Homo sapiens: one gene and its partners. The protein of the gene in region 1 purifies or fractionates together with the protein of each later gene. This does not show direct contact. Each region holds a gene or a part of one and is shown on either strand. Other genes may lie near its edges. The genes, in order: RNF125, PRKAR2A and DDX46.

Region 1 (3,653 bases):
ACCACCAAGGATGGTAAGCAGGGATGAGAAAGCTGCAGTCTATAGGCTGGTACAATGTTTGAAAAGTATAATTTTCATATGTTAAAATACATTTTAAAAAGTCAGTGATTACTTTGGAGGGGATAGAATTGTGTCTGGAGGCCGGGCACAGTGGCTCACGCCTGTAATCCCAGCACTTTGGGAGGCTGAGGCAGGTGGATCACCTGAGGTCAGGAGTTCGAGACCAGCCTGACCAACATGGTGAAACCCTGTCTCTACTAAAAACACAAAAAATTGGCCAGGCGTGGTGGTGGGTGCCAGTAATCCCAGCTACTTGGGAGGCTGAGTCAGGAGAATTGCTTGAACCCAGGAGGTGGAGGCTGCAGTGAGCTGAGATCGTGTCATTGCACTCCAGCCTGGGTGACAAGAGCAAGACTCCATCTCAAAAAAAAAAAAAAAAGAGAAGGAAACAAGAGGGGAAATTTTAGGGGCTGGCCACGCTGTTTTTGTTATAGGTACTGGTTATATGGATGTGTTCAGTTTTGAAATTTCATTCAACTATATGCTTATAAGAACTTTCCAGTATGTACAGTATACTTAAAATTTAAAAAGCCTACCTTTGGACATGTATTAATACTCCCAAATAGATATTATGTGCTGAGTAGTTTAAGAGGCATCAGGTCATGCTCATGTGTATAAATTACCCAAATGCTCATTTTTATTTCTATGTTTATGGAGTCTTCAACAACTCCTATAAATAGGTCAGAATTTTCTGGAAATGTTGATTATGTTAAGATTTCATAATGAGCACCTTTAAATAAACCAGAGAACATATTTCTTGACCAGAAAGGAAGGAAGGAAGGAAGGAAGGAAAGGAAGGAAGGAAGAAGGGAGGGAGGGAAGGAGGGAGGGGAGAGGGGAGGGAGGGAGGGGAGAGGGGAGGGGAGGGAGGAAGGGAGGGAAGGAGAAAATGGTTTTATAGGGAATTATAATGTGTCTGGTATTTTTACTTCCTTGACTTCCTGCTATTTTCTTATGTGACACACAAAACCCCACAGAAGAAAGACATATTTTCTCAAGAAATTTGAGGTAAAATCCAATTTAGACATTCTTTAAAGTATCGTTTAAACTTAGCCTATAGGAAAGCTATTTCACCCACTTTGAATTCTTACTTTTCTTGAAATGTGTGAAAGTGCATGTGGTAAGAATGTGTGATTCTAAAGAAGTCTTGCTGGGAAGGTAAGCAATTCTCGGGAAGTGCAGGGTGCAAGTGGACCTGTAATTTGGTAGTATGGCTCATGGGGTACGAGGTGTCATTAAATTACAGTTTACACAAATGAATACATGGTGGTGGCTCCTTATAGCTTTCAAGGAAAGTGATGTATTTTTGGTCTGTTTGGGGTAGATTCTGCCGTTCCTGTATTGCTACCAGTCTAAAGAACAACAAGTGGACCTGTCCTTATTGCCGGGCATATCTTCCTTCAGAAGGAGTTCCAGCAACTGATGTAGCCAAAAGAATGAAATCAGAGTATAAGAACTGCGCTGAGTGTGACACCCTGGTATGTATGTGACCCCACCTATTTTCATGGTTACCAGCTTAAGTCCCTGCGAAAGTTATCATTTCACCTCTGCTTCTGACCCCATGGTACGCACCTTTTTTTTTTTTTTTTTTTTTTTTTGAGACAGGTTCTCGCTCTTTCACCCAGGTTGGAGTGCAGTGGTGCGATCTCGGCTTACTGCAACCTCCGCCTCCCAGGTTCAAGTGATTCTCCTGCCCGCAGCTTCTCGAGTAGCTGGGTCTACAGGCACCTGCCATCACGCCTGGCTAATTTTTTGTATTTTTAGTAGAGACACGGTTTCACTATGTTAGCCAGGATGGTCTCAATCTCCTGACCTCATTACCCGCCTGCCTCGGCCTCCCAAAGTGCTGGTGAGATGTGAGGCCAGCTGGACTTCCCGGGTAGAGTGGGGACTTGGGAAACCTTCCTGTCTTACAAGAGGATTGTAAAACACACCAATTAGCGCTCTGTAAAATGCACCAATCAGTGCTCTGTAAAACGCATCAATCAGTGCTCTGTAAAGTGCACCAATCAGCACTCTGTAAAACGCACCAATCAGCAGGATTCTGAAAGTAGCCAATCGCAGGGAGGATTGGAAAAACTGCACTCTGATAGGACAGAAACGGAACATGGGCGGGGACGATAAGGGAATAAAAGCTGGCCACCCCAGCTAGCAGTGACAACCGGCTTGGGTCCCCTTCCATGTTGTGGGAGCTTTGTCCTTTTGCTCTTCACAAGAAACCTTGCTACCACTCACTCTTTGGGTCCGTGCCATTTTTTTTTTTTTTTTTTTTTTTGAGACAGAGTCTTGCTCTGTCGCCCAGGCTGCAGTGTAGTGGCGCCATCTCGGCCCACTGCAAGCTCCGCCTCTCAGGTTCAAGTGATTCTAATGCCTCAGCTTCCCGAGTAGCTGGGACTACAGGCATGTGCCACAATGTCTGGCTAATTTTTTGTCTTTTTAGTAGAGAGAGGGTTTTGCTATGTTGGCCAGGCTGTTCTCAAACTCCTGGCTTCAAGTGATCTGCCCACCTTGGCCTCCAAAGTGCTGGGATTACAGGCGTGAGCCATCTCACCCAGCCTCCAATTTCATATATGTACATATATCATCTGCAGAAAACCCTGAACTTCTACCATCACCCGTAATTTGTCAAACAAATGCTTTCATTGACCACCTCCATTTTCCCTTCTTCCCATTACTCCAGTGATCCTCTATGATATGTCCTCCAGTTCTGCTACTCTGTTGCAGACCACTAATGAATAGCTTTATTATCAAACCCAGTGACATATTTCCACCTGTATTGATCTGGACTTTGCAGTATTTGTCTCTATCAAGCACACCTTGCCTGTTGCAGTTTTCAACTTGGGTACTATATCAGCTTCCCCAGATCATGTGAGGTCTTGAAGGTTATGTAGAAGATTCTAGATTTTATCTTAAATGCAATAGTAAGCCAGAGAAAGAGAGTAAGTTTTGGAGTGCCAAGATCGGGCTTATATCTTTATTTTTATTTTTATTTGAGACAGAGTCGCACTCTGTTGCCCAGGCTGGTGTGCAGTGGTGCGATCTCAGCTCACTGCAGCCTCCACCTTCTGGGTTTAAGCGATTTTCATGCCTCAGCCTCCCGAGTAGCTGGGATTACAGGGGCCCAACACCACGCCTGTCTAACTTTTGTATTTTCAGTAGAGACACAGTTTCACCATGTTGGCCAGTCTGGTCTTGAACTCCTGACCTCAGGCGATCTGCCCGCCTCGGACTCCCAAAGTGCTGGGATTACAGGCATGAGCCACCATGCCCAGCCCAGGATTGTATCTTTAAGATATCACTCTAACATACACATAGAAAATGGTTTGGAGGCCAGGCGCAGTGGCTCATGCCTGTAATCCCAGCACTTTGGGAGCCCGAGGCGGGAGGATTGCTTGAGCTCAGGAGTTCAAGACCAACCTGGGAAGAGACCTTGTCTCTACTAAAAATCAAAAAAATTAGCTGGGGCATAGTGGTATACGCCTGTAGTCCTAGATACTCCAGAGGCTGAGTAGGAAGAGCGCTTGAGCCCAGGAGATCAAGGCTGCAGTAAACTATGATCGTGCCACTGCACTCCAGCTTGGGCAACATAGCAA
Region 2 (3,653 bases), on another chromosome or scaffold:
TGTGATCTTGGCTCACTGCAACCTCCACCTCCCAGGTTCAAGCGATTCTCCTGTCTCAGCCTCCCTAGTAGCTGGGACTGCAGGCGCGTGCCGCCATGCCCAGCTAATTTTTTGTATTTTTAGTAGAGACGGGGTTTCATTGTGTTAGCCAGGATGGTCTCGATCTCCTGACCTTGTGATCCACCCGCCTCAGCCTCCCAAAGTGCTGGGATTATAGGTGTGAGCCACTGCGTCCAGCCTGTTTTTGTGTTTTAAATAGAGTTGAGGTCTCATTGTGTTGCCCAGGCTGGTCTTGAATTCCTAGCCTCAAGCGATCCTCCTGCCTTGGCCTCCCAAAGTGCAGGGATTACAGGCATGAACCACCACACACAGCCTAAAATATTGTTTTGTTTTTGTTTTTTTCGAGGCAGGGTCTCGCTCTGTTACCCAGGCTGGAGTGCAGTGGCATGATCTCGGCTCACTGCAACCTCTGCCTCCCAGGTTCAAGTGATTCTCCTGTCTCAGCGTCCCAAGAAGCTGGGATTACAGGCGCCCACCACCATGCCTGGCTAATTTTTGTATTTTTAGTAGAGATGTGGTTTCACCATATTGGCCAGGCTGGTCTTGAACTCCTGACCTCAAGCGATCCGTCTGCCTCGGCCTCCCAAAGTTCTGGGATTACAGGCGTGAGCCACTGCGCCCAGCCCATTATTATACTTTCTGACAAAATGTATATATGTATAGTCCTGACAGCCTGAGGTGGAAGAAAGGTAGTTAACTTAGATACAAATAACTGCTTGCCCATTTAGGAATCTAAGACTAAGCAATTAACATTCTCACATGTATCTCCCTGCACATGTGTACACATATCTGAGAAGTGCCTGGTTTGGTTAACTGTCTTCTGATCAGAATCCATTACTTACTAAGCCAGGCACAGTGTTGTGTACCTGTAGTCCCAGCTACTTGGGAGGCTGAGGTGGGGAGATCACTTGACCCCAGGAGTTCAAAGCCAGCCTGGACAACATTGGGGGACCCTATCTCAAAATAAAACAGAAGGAATCCATGACTTGCTAGAGTCAAGGTATCTTTCATATGCCTGCCTTCCATCTTGCGTATTCCTCCCGTGTCTCTCCATTAACTTAAATCCTACCTCTCTTTCAGGTCCTAGACATTTTTGCTGCAAAATAATCTTTGATCACTCCTGCCTACTGTGATCTCCCCTTCTTACCTTGAAATTTATGTGGCACTTGTCTTCTGTAGTTTCATCAAGCACATTTCATATGCTCATATGCTGTCTTGAACTGTAGACTTTTTATTTTTATTTTATTTTTTTTTGAGACACAGTTTCAACTTATGTCACCCAGGCTGGAGTGCAGTGGCGCAATCTCAGCTCACTGCAACCTTAGCCTCCTGAGCTCAAGTGATTCTCCAGCCTCAGCCTCCCAACTAGCTGGGACTAGACAAACGCCACCATGCCCAGCTAATTTTTGTATTTTCTGTAGAGATGGGGTTTCACCATGTTGCACAGCCTGGTCTTGAACTCCTGAGCTCAAGTGATCTGTCTGACTCAGCCTCCCAGAATGCTGGGATTACAGGTGTGAGCCACTGCACCTGTCCTTGAAATGTAGACTTTTTATTCCTATGTATTTTGTTGTTGTTGTTGTTGTTGTTGATATTGTTGTTTTTGGGACATAGTGTCACTCTGCTGCCCAGGCTGGAATGCAGTGGTACAATCACAACTCACTGCAGCTTTGACCTCTCAGGCTCTGGTGAGCCTTTCACCTCAGCCACCCAAGTACAGACAAGTGCCACCATGCCCAGCTAACTTTTTTTGTGTATTTTTTCGTAGAGAGCGTGTTTCACCATGTTGCCTAGGCTGGTCTCATACTCCTGGGCTCAAGCAATTTGCCCACCTTAGCCTCCCAAAATGCTAGGAGTACAGGCAGTGAGCCACTGCATTCAGCCAACCTTCATATTTTGATATTTTATATTATCTCCCCATTAAGATTGTAAACTTTTTTAGGGTAAGAACAATCTAATTGTTCTTTTTTTAGGCAAGAACAATCTAATTGTTTTGGATTTTTTAAGTTTTTTTAAATCCTGGATTCTAAGGATTAAATGATTGTTTTATTCTCTCTTTTGGTGAGGTGTCTCTTTTTTTTTTTTTTTTTTTTTTTTGAAATGAGGGTCTCACTCTGTCACCCAGGCTGGAGTGCAGTGACATGATCTCGGCTCACTAGAGGTGTCTTTTTTGATATTGAACAGTGACAGTGAGCTCATAAATGTTTAGGTGTTTTCTGTTTTGGGTTCTATTTATGACCCATAGGTGGCACCTATTGAGTGCTAGATAGCAAGCAACAGCATGTGGGCATCTGGCTGGCTCAGGCTATAGGTCCTTTACTTCCAGTGATGACTCAAGATTGAAGTATCATTAAACACTTAATTAACACAGTAACTTACATATTCCTCTAATATTTGCTTTGGCCAGTTAATTAAACCATAGATGTTCCTGTATATAGGCATTTACTAGAATTTTCATATTCTTTCTTGTAGGACCGGGTGACTTTTAGAAGAATCATAGTGAAAAATAATGCAAAGAAGAGGAAGATGTTTGAATCATTTATTGAGTCTGTGCCCCTCCTTAAATCACTAGAGGTAAAGTGGCTTGAATAAGAATCTGTTCATGGGGATCAGGAAAAGCTTTTAAAACTATTCTGTTGTTAGGTTTTCAAATCATACTATTCTAATCCTATTTCTGTGCTGCATAGCTATTGTGACTTTCAATTAAGGTCTTTTCCTTTTATTTGTGAATTTGTTGTTTCAGGTGTCAGAACGAATGAAGATTGTGGATGTAATAGGAGAGAAGATCTATAAGGATGGAGAACGCATAATCACTCAGGTGAGTGAGGGCTTTACGCAGCTCCTTTCCTGGAAGTCACCCCTGAAGAACTAGTACATCATTTATCTCAAAAACTTCTTGCCGGACGCAGTGGCTCACGCCTGTAATCCCAACACTTCGGGAGGCTGAGGCAGGTGGATCACTTGAGGCCAGGAGTTCAAGACCAGCCTGGCCAACATGGTAAAACTCCATCTCTACTAAAAATACAAAAATTAGCTGGGTGTGGTGGCCCATGCCTGTAATCCCAGCTACTTGGGAGGCTGAGGCGGGAGAATTGCTGGAACCCAGGAGGCAAAGGTTTCAGTGAGTCGAGATTGCGCCACTGCCTCCAGCCTGGGCAACAGAGCAAGACTCCATTTCAAAAAAAAACCAAAAAACCTTCTATGTTCTCCCACTGTTGGGAGCTCTTATTACCAGGTAATAGATCATACTTCAGAGGACTATTATGTAGTCCTCTGAAGCTTATTGACGTCCGTCTTACTGACACGTGCAGATCTCTTGCTTCCTCTCACCTTTCCTTGGCTTCTAGTGTTTGTTCTTTTGATGTCATTTTCTTTTGACCTTAAGTAAGTTTCATCCATTGCTATTAGAACCTGGGGAAGGTTAAAGAGTTCTGTCCTCTAACTTTCTATATTTGACACAAAGGCATCCTTTTGGCTAATCTAACACAAATCAGAGTTCACAGTCTTCAGTGATTAACCAAATTTGTAAGATGTAAAGATTACTAAACAGTGGGCTAGATCATTGTAATGAGTACTGTCTGATAATTTTCTTT
Region 3 (3,574 bases), on another chromosome or scaffold:
TAGGGTTTGGTAATTTAAGTGATCTAAATCTTTTAGAATTTTCAGAGGTAATTAGATTTTTTAAAGGATCATTTAGTTTTTGAAACTCCGAACTCAACTAAACACTAACAGGATGAAAACAGGTGTTGCTACTGTGGAATGAGCCTAGTGTCATCTGTTTCTAGTTCTGTAATTGGAGGGACCCCACTGCCTGGCTGGCTCCTTGGAGGCTCTGTTTGGCTCAGCAGCTCCAGGCCTCCCACCAGGCAAAGGGAAGGAGAACAGGAAGGACTTACATGCCTAGTCAGCCTGTATAATTTATATAGCCTGTTCTGTGACCCTCTCTTTTTACTAGTGGAGAATCCCTTAAAAGCAGCCACAGTTGTTTTAGGACCAATGAAAGGAAATGCCCTTTTTTTCATAGCTGCTTATAAACATATGTAACCTATTACAAGAAGTTACATAAGTCAGAATTTAAACTGGTCCAAATTGTCGGGCTCTGATAAAAGTAGGAAAATTGATTTTCCAGTTAAATCTAGGTGAGAGTGTCATTTTCCTTCTTTTTAAAGTTGCACAAAAATATCAACAAGCTTCACACCAACTCATACCAAGCAACGTGTTTTCCTCCTAAATTTCATTTTTGTTGTAATTTTCAGTTTGACTTCGGTCTTGATTCTTCTTTTTCTCTTCCCTTCCAGCACTCACCTTCCCCACGTAGTTTTATAGTGTTGTGATTGGTGGCTAGTGGAGGTATAGGATTTAAATTAGATATGTTGCTATGACTTCATAGCCATACCCTTGGCCTTTTCCTTCCTGTTGTGCAACTGTTTCTGTCTCTCTTTCTAGCTCCGTCTCTGTCTCTCTCTGGGGACAGAAAAGTTACTCATTTCTAATATGGGGGGAAATTTTCTCGTTTATTATAAATCTTTCCCTCATTTGTGTTTTTTAAAAATACACGGAATGATAAAAATATAGCTCTCTACGTTGCAAACCCAGTCCTCCTTTTATTCTTAGACATTTCAATCTTTAGTCTTCTTTGATTCAGCTCTTTTTCTCTTCTCAGTGTGCAATATGGTGTCTATCTGTACTTACCTACTCACTGGCATTGTCCATTGGCTCCAGATTCTACCCAGCCTACCCTTGATGGCTCTCTAATCTCTGCCACTTCTAAACTTCTGGTTCATATTTCCATTGGCCTCATCTGTATTTCCAATTGGATGTCTGATGAGCACCTCAACTACAGCAATTTTAGAATTAAATTTCACCCATTATCACTGTCCAGAAAACACCTGTTTACCTCCTGGAATCAGTATATTCTTTTACTTCTGCCTTTTTTCACTTGCCAGCCAGCTCTTAATATCTTAATTTGTTTCTCTTTTTCACTGTTCATATCCCATCAGAAAAAATATCTTGTCCATTCTACCTCAAAAGTGTGCTCTTGTGATGGTATAAATACAATATTGTGAGAGCACTAAGGAAAAAAACACTTAACTGTGCCTTTCAGAGTCAGGAAAACTTCCTAAAAGTGGTATTTAAAAGTGAAGTTTGTGAACTACTTCCTTTTCATCCTGTTTTGATATCTTTACAAGTTTGTTTTTCTAGTCTGTAAGCTTTTAAAGAGCATGAATTTGTTATTTATATGTTAAATGTCTCACAGTATGTGAGAGGTGAGTGCTTAATGTTTATGAAATTGATAACTGTGAATGAATGTCTGCAGCCTACCTCATCTAGTCAGCTATCTTGCGGTGTTCTTTCATACTCCTTTTCCAACCACGCTACGCTTCTCTTATTCTTCAATAATTAAGCATGCTTGTCTTAACTCTGTACCATTACGCATGTAATTAATTTCCTTTGCAAAATACTCTTATGGTATCTTTCCTCCCTCCAATTGGCTAGTCCTCCTTTCATTTTAAAGATTTTGTTCAGACGAGACCCTTCTGAAACATTTGTAGACTTCAGTGAACATCATAAATGTCTAATAAATACTTACTAAATGAATAAACCAAGGAAGTTATATTTCCCTTTAGCCTTCTCTTACTATCTCCTGGACAAATCACTAATAGTCTTTTTATTCCACTCTTTTTAATCACCATACTAGGAACTCTTAACACATAATATGACCTCAGTGGTTACATTTGAAACTCTGAAAGTAATCAAAATAATAAGCAGCCATTATATAATGTGGGTAATGTTCCACCAGGCATTAAATGGCTATCTTGGCAGGCAGTACAGTGTTTCTGAAAGTCACCTACAGTGTTTCTTCCTGGACCTCCGTGATATGGGTAAACACAGTGTAAGTTTAGTAATTTGAATAATATGCTTTCCACTCAATCACTAGGTGCCAATGAACTGGCTGTGCAGAAAGCAAAGGCAGAAATCACCAGGCTCATAAAAGAAGAGCTGATCCGGCTGGTGAGTGAAAACCTTAAAGTTTCGTTTGTTTTGTTTTAATAAGTGTTTTATTGAAATATAAATACAGAGAAGTACTCAAATCATAAACATATAGTTTGATGAATTTTCACAAAGTAATAAGCATACCAGTGTAGTCACTACCCAGATCAAGAAATAAAAAACATTACTAATATCCCAGAAGTCTTCTCTGTGTCTATTCTTGTCACTATTCATCTCCCCCCAACAAAACCATACCTTGAATTTTTTTTCTTTTCTTTTCTTTTTTTTTTTTGGAGACTGAGTCTTGCATTGTCACCCAGGCTGGAGTGCAGTGGCACGATCTCGGCTCACTGCAACCTCCGCCTCCTGCGTTCAAGTGATTCTCCTGCCTCAGCCTCCTGAGTAGCTGGGATTACAGGCGCACACCACCGCATCTGGCTAATTTTTGTATTTTTAGTAGAGATGGTGTTTCACTGTGTTGGCAAGGCTGGTCTCGAACTCCTGACCTCATGATTCACCTGCCTTGGCCTCCCAAAGTGCTGGGATTACAGGCGTGAGCCGTGGCGCCCGGCCCTATATTGTGAATTTTAAAATCATAGATTAGTTTTTCCTGTTTTTGAACTCCACATAAGTGTAATCATGCGTTTGCACCTTTTGCATCTAGTTTCCTTCACTCAACATTTTGAGGAGATCGGTCCATGTTATTGCATGTAGCAATAATTCATTTTCATGGCCATATAATATTTATATGATTATACAACAATTAATTTATATTTATATATTGGATTTGGGGGCTATTCTTATTTTTGGTTTTTATGAACAACACTTCTGTGAACATTATTCCATGTGCGTTTGGTATATATTAGCATGATTTTTTCCTTGGGTATATACCTCGGAGTAGAATTGTTAATTATAGGCTAGGTATTGCTAAATAGTTTTCCAAAGAGGTTACATCAATTCACACTCAATCCAGAAGTGTAGAAAATTCCAGTTGTTCTACATATTTGCCAACACATGGTGTTGTCAGTGTCTTTAAACTTAAACAATGACTTAATTTGATTTTGGAAAAAGCCCTTTACAGACTGCCTTTCCCGAGGAGGTAGACATGTCCTTGTGTCTTTAGTGCCAGTTGCAGCTTATAAACACTCCCTACAGTGTGTACATTTCCTTTGAAAGGAAACGTTGTCTTTTATCTAAGTGTAAT

The links.
Region 2: the proteins of RNF125 (region 1) and PRKAR2A purify together in Homo sapiens (affinity purification with mass spectrometry, with the first as the bait; one large-scale study listed by BioGRID). This does not show direct contact.
Region 3: the proteins of RNF125 (region 1) and DDX46 purify together in Homo sapiens (affinity purification with mass spectrometry, with the first as the bait; one large-scale study listed by BioGRID). This does not show direct contact.

The regions. Positions count from the first base shown.
Region 1 is NC_000018.10:32,035,732-32,039,384, forward strand, and holds part of RNF125 (E3 ubiquitin-protein ligase RNF125), read left to right. Parts: intron 1-1,384; coding exon 1,385-1,538; intron 1,539-3,653. UniProt on the Homo sapiens protein: E3 ubiquitin-protein ligase that mediates ubiquitination and subsequent proteasomal degradation of target proteins, such as RIGI, MAVS/IPS1, IFIH1/MDA5, JAK1 and p53/TP53.
Region 2 is NC_000003.12:48,764,229-48,767,881, reverse strand, and holds part of PRKAR2A (cAMP-dependent protein kinase type II-alpha regulatory subunit), read left to right. Parts: intron 1-2,532; coding exon 2,533-2,634; intron 2,635-2,803; coding exon 2,804-2,878; intron 2,879-3,653. UniProt on the Homo sapiens protein: Regulatory subunit of the cAMP-dependent protein kinases involved in cAMP signaling in cells. Type II regulatory chains mediate membrane association by binding to anchoring proteins, including the MAP2 kinase.
Region 3 is NC_000005.10:134,824,630-134,828,203, forward strand, and holds part of DDX46 (probable ATP-dependent RNA helicase DDX46), read left to right. Parts: intron 1-2,317; coding exon 2,318-2,391; intron 2,392-3,574. UniProt on the Homo sapiens protein: Component of the 17S U2 SnRNP complex of the spliceosome, a large ribonucleoprotein complex that removes introns from transcribed pre-mRNAs.